Regions from separate parts of the Homo sapiens genome. Here region 2 is linked to region 1. The links come from fine-mapping of genetic effects on gene expression. A gene starts in region 1. The other region holds a variant in brackets. All regions are shown on one strand. Distances are from middle to middle.

Region 1 (5,387 bases):
TACTCCCCAAAACTGTTAAAGTCATCAAAAACAAGAATAGTCTGAGAAACTATCACAGCTTAGACTAAAGTAGCATGGTATCCTAGATGGGATCCTCAAACAATGACAGGAATGTGCAGGTGAATATTGATTTATGAATTATGAAGAATGTATCATATTATTGCATGATGTTAATAATAGGAGAAACTGGACATGATGTATAGGAAAACCCTCTTAACTGTCTTCGCAACTTTTCTGTAAATTTAAAATTACTCTAAAATGTTTACTAAAAAAAAAAAAACACTTAAAGGAATGGGGAAAAAAGCCAAAAATGGGGAGAAAATACTTGTAAACCCCGTGTCGGATAAAGGATTCATATACTGAATGAATAAACACCTTATAACATGCAACCACATAAAAATGAAGAGTCCAATAAAATAGTAAATGATTTCAAGACTTCACCAATGAAGATACACAGATCACAAAAAAGCATATGAAAAGATGATTACCATAATTATTCAATAAAAATACAAATGTAAACAGCAGTAACATTCTTCTACCCACCTGTTACAATTGATACAATGCAACAACCTGAAAATACCAAATTGTACAAAAGATGTGGCATTCTCTTTCATTGCTGGTAGAGAAGAAAAAGAACACATTCACTCTAGAAGGGGCTTTGGCTATTTCTAATATAGCAAAACTTAGACTTACCATTACACACAGCAATTGTACTCCTAGGTTTTATCAAGGAAAATTGGAAACAGGTTCATACACACAAAATCACGTACACAAAAACATATATAGCAGCTTATTTGAAATTGACAATCAATACTTTTTCCAATTGGTGAATGGATAAAACCAATGGTACGTCCACAAACTGAAAATGTATTTAAAGCTCAATCCACCCTCTACCGTTCTAAGGCAGGCAGTTTTGTGGGTCAGTTCCCCCAAGTGGTCAGGGAAAACGAATCACCATATTAACTCTTCCAAATAATCCCAAAATACGGGCAATTATTCAACGAATTCTCCAAGGCTCCTTCTCCTGCATTGGGGGGGAAAAAAAGATAAAGACATCCAGCCTTTATAAAAAGAACATATGAGCCAAGTGTTCACTCATATTGCAGCAAATGTCCTAAATAGATAATTGTATATTCAACACAACAGTGGACTAATGAACAAGCAGCTCGTATGCAAGGAATAAAAATACAGAAAAAGCCTCTGAAATGAATTTTATCATATTTTCAAATTAACATTTTTAGCAAATGAAGATTAAAAGGCACTTTAATTTTCTAAAACTGACAGGAAACATACTTGAATGTGAAATGTTAGAAGCATTCCCATTCTCGTCAGGAGCAAGTCATTGATGTATGCTTTCACTGCTACCGTTCACAGCTGCAGTGAATGCTGAAATGAAAAAGAGAGCTATGGATATCAAGATGAAAAAGAGGTATGAAGATTGAAAAGAAATAGATCATATTTTTCACAATATGACCATCAAGAAAATTCAAAGGAAGAGACACATGGAACATTCAAATGAATAAGAGACTTCAGAAGACAGCATACAAAGACCACTGCAGCGAATACAAGAGACTTGTCACAGATGAGCAACTTAGAACATAAAATGAAAAATATACCATCCCCAACAGCATTTAAATCCAAAATATAAAGAAGAAGAAGCCTAACCAAAATATGCAAGACATTTACAGAAGCAACTGTACAAGTTTGCTGACAGATTCAGAGAAAAAATTCCCAAATAAATGGAGTAGTATATGATGTTCACTGATGAGGAATAGAATACAGCAAAGGTGTAAATCTTACTTAAATTAAATAAACAGTTAATGCCTACCTGTAGCTGCCAAAGTGACAATCAAGCCCAGGCTGCTGTGCTCTACTCCCAAAATCAACTGTGTAAAAATATAGAAGGGAAAAAGAAAAATAAAACAACAATATCAGCAACAAAGTCTAAACAACAAAACATAGAAAACCCTGGGGAAAAAACTGTGTTGAACTGGTACTTGTGTTCTGGGCAGTTGGAGAGGCAGGGAGGTTGAGGAGGTCTGCAGCCACTGCAGACGACAGGGTGAGTTGCAGGAAAAGTTTTAAAGGACCACCCCACATCAATGTAGGATCCGAGTCTGCACCTCAAAACACGAAGCCAGTAGCCCAGGGGTAATATCAGGACACCAGGAAAATTGGATTGATTGAGACACCATGGCTCCAGAATTCTGCTAATAACAACTAGAAACAAAGAGTAGGTTAGGACTACCTTCCAAAATACTATTATTTTAATCAAATATATATAATGAACTAGAAATAGAATAGTATGAGTGAATCACACATTGTATGAGTAGATATTGTTTGATAAAATAAGTACGTATAGTCGACATACATATATGTATAAATATATGTAAAGATATATACACATACATTCATATAATTACACATATATAATATAAACATATACATACATATGTGTTTATGCATATAAACATAAATATAATGCACATATACAATTGGCATAGATTTAAAATTCGTTTCTTACTATACGAATGCGAATTAAATTATGAAAATCACTAAAGTGGAATAGGAATTGTTAGGTAACTTCAAAACTCAGGACTTCCACAAATTTATTGCAGCTACTCAGTTTCTTCAGTGTAAAAATAAATCATTTAGTACAAAAGTTTTGCAAAATCCTCTTCTAGCTGGGGAAGAGCCCCCGTGGGAAGGTGTGCCTCTTCTCCCAGAGGTCACTACAATCTTAGGTGCTGCAAACCCACAGGGAGAATCTGGCCTGGGACCCGCAGCCATTCTCTGCAAGGGGTGCAGCTGTGCAAATGCTCAGAGGTGACAGAAACAGAGTATCTCCTAAAAGAGCCAAGAGTCAAGAAGAGGACCCTCCTGAGTGAGGACTGAGGGTCCACCCACACCACATAGAGGGGCCACATAATTCAGCTCAGACCCTCATGTCAGCCCTGAAAGACCCCAGCAGCCTTGTCCCCCCACCACACCCTTCCCCCCACTGCCACCTCAGGGGACTCGGAATCAGAACCTTGGTCTGAGGGAAGCAGACACCATCAGCAGAGTACGGAGCTCCAGGCTCTGCCAGATCTCAAAGTGAGAACCTTGAGGGATGACTGAACCGCTCCTCCCTCATCCCCCGCCCCACTAGAATCCGGTTCCGCCCCTGTTGTCCACCCAGGTGAGCCCTGGGTGGACGGATGTGACGCCACTGACGTGGCCGCGGGGATCAGAGAGAAGCGAGGGCCTGGTTCTGAGGGGTCGGCTTGAGATCGGCTGAGGGAAGCGGGCTCAGGGTCTGTGAGGAGGCAAGGTGAGACCCTGAGGGAGGACTGAGGAGGCCCCCACCCCTCATATAGGACCCAAAATAATCTAGCGCCGCCCCTGCTGCCAGCCCTGGACCACCAGGGGGCAGACTTGTCTGGCTGGGCCACCCCTCGCCAGCCCTGCGCTTAAGCCCCAGGGGAATCTGGAGTGAGAGCTTGGTGTGACCAGAGCAGGGCTGGTTAGCAGAGGGCAGGGCCCAGGTTCTGCCAGGCATCAAGGGCAGGACCCTGAGGGAGGGCTGAGGCTCCACAGAGCACATCTCTGCCCCTACTGTCAGCCCTGGGAAGCCCTAGGCATGGCGGCCGGGCATGGCGGCCGGGCATGGCGGCCGGGCATGGCGGCCGGGCATGGCGGCCGGGCATGGCGGCCGGGCTCGCTGATTCTGACGTCCGCATCCGGGGCTGATGCAGCAAAGGGGCTTCATGAGCACGGACTCAAGAGGAGCAGAGGGAGGGCCCAGGCTATGCTGGGAGATGAGGAGGCCCGAGGGGACCCAGGACCCCAGGACAGGGGGCCCACCCTACCTGTCTGAGACTGAGGGGCCTCCACATTTGGCCTCAGGAATCCGAGGGACTGAAACTCAAGTCAGCAGGGGGGTGGTGAACAGCCCTGCCAGGAGTCAAGGAGAAGAAGAAGAGGGAGGACTCAGGGGTCCTTGGACTCCAGATCAGTGGAGATCTCAGCCTTGGGAAGTCCCAGGATCTGTGGCTGCATGTGGCGCATCCTTGCTGCATTTTCAGGGTGTCAGAAAGGAGACAGCTGTGGTCTGAGGAGTGGAGTCTCAGATCACTGGAGAGAGGTGCCCCAGAGCCCTTAAGGAGGACTCAGCAGACCTCCCATCATGGCCTAGGAAACCTGCTCCCACTCTCAGGTCTGGGCACCCAAGGCAGGACAGTGGGGAAGGGATGTGGCCCCCCCACTTTCTGGTAGGGGGCCTCAAGGAGATGGTGGCCTTGGCATGCAAGACACATCCACGGTTCAGCAGGAAGGAAAGGGCCATGCCTTGTCGTGGAGTAAATATGAATACCTGGATGACACCCAGACAGAGAAAGACCCCATGAAACCTACTACTTCTGTCAGCCGTGGGAATCCCATGCAGGGTTGTCCATGTAGTGCCTCCTTACTTCTGCCTCCTGGGTCTCAGGGAGGTAGCAACCTGGGTCTGAAGGGCGTCCTCAGCTCAGCAGAGGGAGCCACACCTGTTCAACAGAGGGACGGGGTCACAGGATCTGCAGGACCCAAGATGTGCTCACTTTGTGATGAATGGGGGTACTCCTGGCCTGGAAAGAAGGGACCCCACAAAGTCTGGCTAACTTTGGTTATTATCTCTGGGGGAACCCGATCAAGGGTGGCCCTAAGTGGAGATCTCATCTGTACTGTGGGCAGGAAGTTGGGGAAACGCAGGAAGATAAGGTCTTGGTGGTAAGGGGAGATGTCTGCTCATATCAGGGTGTTGTGGGTTGAGGAAGGGCGGGCTCCATCAGGGGAAAGATGAATAACCCCCTGAAGACCTTAGAACCCACCACTCAAGAACAAGTAGGGACAGATCCTAGTGTCACCCCTGGACACCCCACCCAGTGGTCATCAGATGTGGTGGCTCCTCATTTCTCTCTTGAGATCTCAGGGAAGTGAGGACCTTGTTCTCAGAGGGCAACTCAGGACAAAACAGGGACCCCCATGTGGGCAACAGACTCAGTGGTCCAAGAATCTACCAAGAGTCTAGGTGACAACACTGAGGGAAGATTGAGGGTACCCTCGATGGTTCTCCTAGCAGGCAAAAAACAGATGGGGGCCCAACAGAAATCTGCCCGGCCTCTTTTGTCACCCCTGAGAGCATGAGCAGGACTATCAGCTGAGGCCCCTGTGTTATACCAGACTCATTGGTCTCAGGGAGAAGAAGGCCTTGGTCTGAGGGCACTGCATTCAGGTCAGCAGAGCGGGGGTCCAAGGCCCTGCCAGGAGTCAGGGACTCAGAGGACACCACTCACCAAACACACAGGACCGAACCCCACCCTGCACCTTCTGTCAGCCATGGGAAGTGCAGGGAAAGGTGGGTGGAT
Region 2 (5,387 bases), 170 kb before region 1:
TCCTTCTCACACTTTTCCAAACTCATCACAGCCTATGCCCTTTGGTAACAAGAAAGCCTTACCCTTCCTGGCTCCTTTCCAAATCCTAATTTGACCTGAGGATATTCTGGGACCTGGAGGAGTATACTAATGACCACAGACCTCACAGTGGGTTTCACCCATTAGTCTTCTTAAACTTTTTGGGGGTACACCGAGATCCTAGATGGCTCTTTGGGTAGCTGACAAAACAGTTCGGCATCACCTCTCTGGATCAAGTTTAGAAAGCAAAAACTCATAGGCGCCTTAACGAGGTGATTAGTTTAATTAATGTGTGGGCATTACATAGGGGATCATTTGAAAAGTAAGTCATCATTATAGTGATTTGTCACTCATTCACACAGCATTCTTTTATTATTTACCAACCCCTAGGAAACTCACCAAATGGCTACCTCATCTTCTGCCAGTTCTATCTGAACCATAATACTTTGGAAGGGGATTTCTAAGTAGAGAATTTTAAATAAAAGTTTAACTGTTCATAAGCCTCAGCACTGAGTCTTGAGTAGTTGTATTGGAGAGCTGCAATTCCAAGCCCCAGTTGGGAAGACTGAAGTCAGATACGGGAGACTGTGGGCAAGTGTGGGCACTGCAGCCAAGGTGATGGGGGCTCAGAGATGGGCCTCAGGAGAAGGAAACCCCAAATCCCAACAGGTACAATTAGGCTGTTAGATTCCACCTTGCAAGGACTACTGTGTTAACTTGCATATCCAAACAAGATGGAAAAAGAAACAGGGCATCAGGGAAAGGTCACAGCTGCCTCCTGACAAGAGAGAGTGTTCAGATAGCCCTGGGTGGCTAGAGCCCTGCCATGCTCACTTACCCAGGATGTGAGGAGCACAAACCAGAAGCTGGGAAAGCAGGCCTTTGGAGTCCCTTTAAAACTCAGATGCTTACCTGGTCCAGGAGCCAACAATTAGAAGATAGTGGGAGCATTCAAACTTTGGCTGTTGGGTGTTTGGAAAGATTGAAAATTCCATGAGACTTTAGTACCAGAGAAGCTCCAAATACTAGGACCATAGAACTGGCAGTTCTTTATTCATTCCATAAATGAATACTGAGCATGTATTGTGTGCCAGGCACTGTCCTGGGCTCTGAGGATACAATATTGAACACATTTCCTCCCTAGGTGGAACTTACATTCTAGTGAGGTAAAGGGTAGGCACACAATAAATCATGAAACAAACTTAAAGGTGCAGTAGATTTAATGGTTAACTTCCAAATCACCTTTGGTAGGCTTCCAAATGAACTCACCTGGGGGAGGTCTTGTGATTTCTGTTGCCATCCTGTCCCTCAGTAAAGTGTCTTATCCTGCATTCCACAAATTGTTTACATATGGATTAATATGTAATGTACCAACATTGAAAAGTTTGCTGATTTATTTTTAAATCATGAAATTTTACTGGTTGTTTTGCACATGGACATTTTAGTCTGTATGTTGCAATTTGGTACAATGATTCTAACCTCCGTATTGTATCCTCTAATAAAAAACGACAACTGCCATATAAAAAGTTCTCTCTTGTTCTAAACTCTCATAAAACCCTTCCAACTTGTAAGACTCTCCAGAACACTCCCAACTTTGTTGGTTTCTCCTCCCAGGTCAGTCCTCACATTTGGCTTCCAATAAACATTTATCCTCTTATTTTTGCCTAACCAGTCTTAATTTTGGTTGACATGGTGATAAATACTATGGAAACAAATTGAATCTAGAGAACTGAATAAGTGTTTGGGATGAGTTAAGAGGGAGGATTGCAATTTTAGAAAGGGTATTCACTTTTTAATGAGGTTATTTGTTTTTGTTTGTTCAATTGTTTAAGCACCTTATAGATTCTGAATATTAGACCTTTGTCAGATGCGTAGTTGGGGAATATTTTCTTCCATTCTGCAGGTTGTCTGCTTACTCTGTGGATAGTTTCTTTTGCTGAGCAGAAGCTTTTGAGTTTAATTAGGTTAACTTGTCAATTTTTGTTTTAGTTGCAATAGCTTTTGAGAACATAGTCATAAATTATTTCCCGAGGGTGATATCCAGAATGGTGTTTCCTAGGTTTTCTTCTAGGATTCTTGTAGTTTGAGGTCTTACATTTCAATCTTTAATCCATGTCGAATTAATTTTTGTATATGATGAAAGGTCAGGATCCAACTATTGGGTACTATGCTCACTACTTGAGTGACGGGATCAATAATATCACAAATCTCAGCATCTCACAATATACCCATGTAACAAAGTTGCACACGTACCCCCTGAATCTAAAATGAAAGTGAAATTACAAAAATAAATAATAAAGACACAAATTCTATGAAGAAAAAGAAAGGTTATTCATAGAAGGCCTCACAGAGAAGATATTTGGAGAGAGACCCAAGGGTGTCTGGAAAGCAGTATTAGCTAGCAGTATTATAGGAGCATGTGTCTAGAAGAGAACAAAGGCGTGCAGTACCTCAGGACCCTGGAACAGAGAGTAGGAGGTAGGGGTCTAGGGAGGCTGGTCTATTGAAGCCAGACCCTTTTCTCTGAGCCATAGGCTGTCTCAGAGCCAGGTCAGCTGCACTGTACCATGAACTGGCTTATTGGATCCAGTATTCTATCCAAGGTTACTGAGTTGGTTTACATTATTCCAGCATTTGAGACGTGGGGTAGGTAGAAGTATAGTTGGAAACAGATTAGTAATGGATTGAAGATTTTTGATGCTGAATATCAAGTATATTGGGTATATTATACTATACTATTTTACATGTCTGACACTTTAATAAAGTTATTTCATCATAATATCATGCCATTAAATTTGAAATCCTAAGTGAAATGAACTATATTTTATAAAAAAAAAAAAATGGCCCGGCGCAGTGGCTCACGCCTGCAATCCCAGCACTTTGGAAGGCCGAGACAGGTGGATCACGAGGTCAGGAGTTCGAGACCCGTCTGGACAATATGGTGAAACCCCGTCTCTACTAAAAATACAAAAATTAGCC[G/T]GGTGTGGTAGCGCACACCTGAAATCCTAGCTACTCAGGAGGCTGAGGCAGGAGAATTGCTTGAACCTGGGAGGAGGAGGTTGCAGTGAGCTGAGATTGTGCCATTGCACTCCAGCCTGGGCGACTGAGCGAGACTCTGTCTCGAAAAAAAAAAAAAAAGATCAAATTGGTCCATAAAGAAACAGAAAACTTTAATCAAACATTACAAACTAAAACTGTATTCTCAGTTCAAGCCACCCACAAATGATCCAGGAAAAGAAAGTTTCAGAGGCCAGTTTTACCAAATAATTAGAACTCATTGCCATCCTAAGCAAACTCTTAAAAACCATACAAAAAGATGGGCAACTGTGGAACTCATTTTCTGAGACTAGTGTTCTTTGTTTCAAATACCAGAAGAGGACCTCACCATGAAAAGAACACTTAAACCAAAGTTACTCACATAGCAACAAATATCCTAAATAAATTAATAGCCAATTCATTAGGGCAGTGTACTAAATGGAAAAACGGGATATATCCAAAGAATGAAAATACAATTTGACATTAAAATATACCTTCAGTGTGATTCCCTATATTAACAAGATTATAGAGGCAAAACATATGATCATATTAATGGATACAGAAAAATATTTTGAAAAAATTAGTAATCATCCATGATAAAAATAACTAGAAAATTAAGAGTAGAAGGAAATTTTGTTTCATCAAATTGATAGCAAATATACTTAATTGTAAAATGTTGGACGCATTCATGTCAGGCACAGGTCATAAATGTATGCTATCATTGCTATTTTTCAAAGTTGTATTGGAATACAAAGCCACAGATATGGATACCAAAATAAATAAGAGGTATGTGTATTGGAAAGAAAGAGTGATATTTGGTAGGGTAATGCAACAGTCTATCTAGAAAATTCAAAAAAATGCACACTTGAAATAGTCAAATGAATAAGAGACGTGTGAAAAATAGCGAACAGAAGATCAATAAAGCAAAATCAAAAGATTTGCAAAACAGACAATAACTATTAAGAACAGGTCATAGAAAATACCCCATTCACAATAGCAACAATATCCAAAAATTACCTAACAAGAAGACTAACAAAAGCATGTATGATTTTTACTGAGGCAACTATACAAGTACTGATATATCCAGTTCAAAGAGCACCCAAATAAACAAGGCAGTATATGATATCATTGATAGGGAACAGAATATTGCAAAGATGGCAATTCTATTTTTTCAAAAATTGACAGACGTAATTCCTTAACCAGCCAAGATGACTGTCAAGCTCAGGCATCTGTTGGTTTTTGATTGTTTGGTTTGGTTTTGTTTTTTTGAGACAGGACCTCACTCTATTTCCAAGGCTGGAGTGCAGTGGTGTGAACACAGCTCACTGCAGCACTGACATCCTGGGCTCCAGTGATCCTCCCACCTTAGCCTCCCTACCAGCTGGGACTGCAGTCACACGCCACCACACCCAGCTAATTTTTCATTTCTTTTTTCTTTTTCTTTTTCTTTCTTTCTTTTTTTTTTGAGATGGGGTCTTGTTATGTAGTTCAGATTAATCTTGAGCTACTGGGCTCAAGTGATCCTCCTGCCTTGGCCTACCAAAGTGTTTGGATTACAGGTGTGAACCACCGCGTTCAGTCTTGGGCTTCTATCTTAGACTCCCCAAAACAACCCGGGAAAACTAAAGAATAAAAATAAATAAATAAAGGAACAAGCAAACAATATCAAAAAAGAAATCTAAACAAAAAAAACATGAGAGAGCCCTGAGAATTTCATTGTATTTTGAAGGAATACTTGTGATTGGCGGGGAAGAGTGGCAGGGAAGTTGGGGTGGATAGGAAGAAAGAAATGTTTAAAATTCTGCCCCTACTTCACTGTGGAAAACTCGGGTAGGGTCTCAGACCACAGGTGCCAGTAGTCATGGGGTAACTTCAGGACATGAGGAAACACTGGTTGATTAAAGGAATACGGCTGGAATTTGTGCTGATAACCACTAAAACCACGTCAGTAAATAAAGATTGGCTTTTTAAAAATTATCGTTTTAATTGAAGATAAAGAATGGATTAAATTAGAGTATTGACCATTAGAGTGAAATAGGCAGTTAGGTTAAGTATGATTTTTGACACTGAATGAGAATTAAAAAATGAAAATCACTAAAATGAACTATGAAGTGTTAGATAAATTCTAAACGCAGGACTTCCGCAAATTTCTTGCAGCCACTCAGCCTCTTCAGTGTAAAAATAAAGCTTTCAGGGCAAAAGTTTGCAAAGTCTAGATCTGGCTGGGGAGGAGCCCCCGTAGGAAGGTGTGCATCTTCTCCCAGAGGTCACTACAATCACGGGTACTGAAGCCACATGGAAGCACCTAGCCTGGGATCCGCAGCTATTGTCTG

Direction of the effects. Alleles are on the strand shown, and positions count from the first base shown. SD is a standard deviation of normalised expression in the study named.
As copies of T replace G in region 2, the expression in cerebellum of the gene that starts at base 3,211 in region 1 goes down (large effect, 1.0 SD a copy in GTEx).

The links. PIP is the estimated chance that this variant, and not a neighbour inherited with it, causes the effect.
Region 2: its variant is fine-mapped to the expression of MAGEA8 in cerebellum (GTEx, PIP 0.98).

The regions. Positions count from the first base shown.
Region 1 is chrX:149,877,973-149,883,359 of GRCh38, forward strand. It overlaps MAGEA8 (MAGE family member A8), which reads left to right and starts at 3,211. Exons shown (of 3, transcript NM_005364.5): 1 at 3,211-3,313. LINC00850 (long intergenic non-protein coding RNA 850) reads left to right here. Exons shown (of 3, transcript NR_109813.1): 3 at 1,375-1,827. MAGEA8-AS1 (MAGEA8 antisense RNA 1) reads right to left here. Exons shown (of 5, transcript NR_102703.1): 2 at 4,396-4,526; 3 at 1,829-1,886; 4 at 1,294-1,386; 5 at 791-1,024.
Region 2 is chrX:149,706,145-149,711,531 of GRCh38, forward strand. It overlaps a transcript of MAGEA11 not described here. Among named protein-coding and RNA genes, the nearest start is that of MAGEA11, 3.2 kb to the right of the region's middle. The variant G/T (reference allele first, on the strand shown) is at 2,998.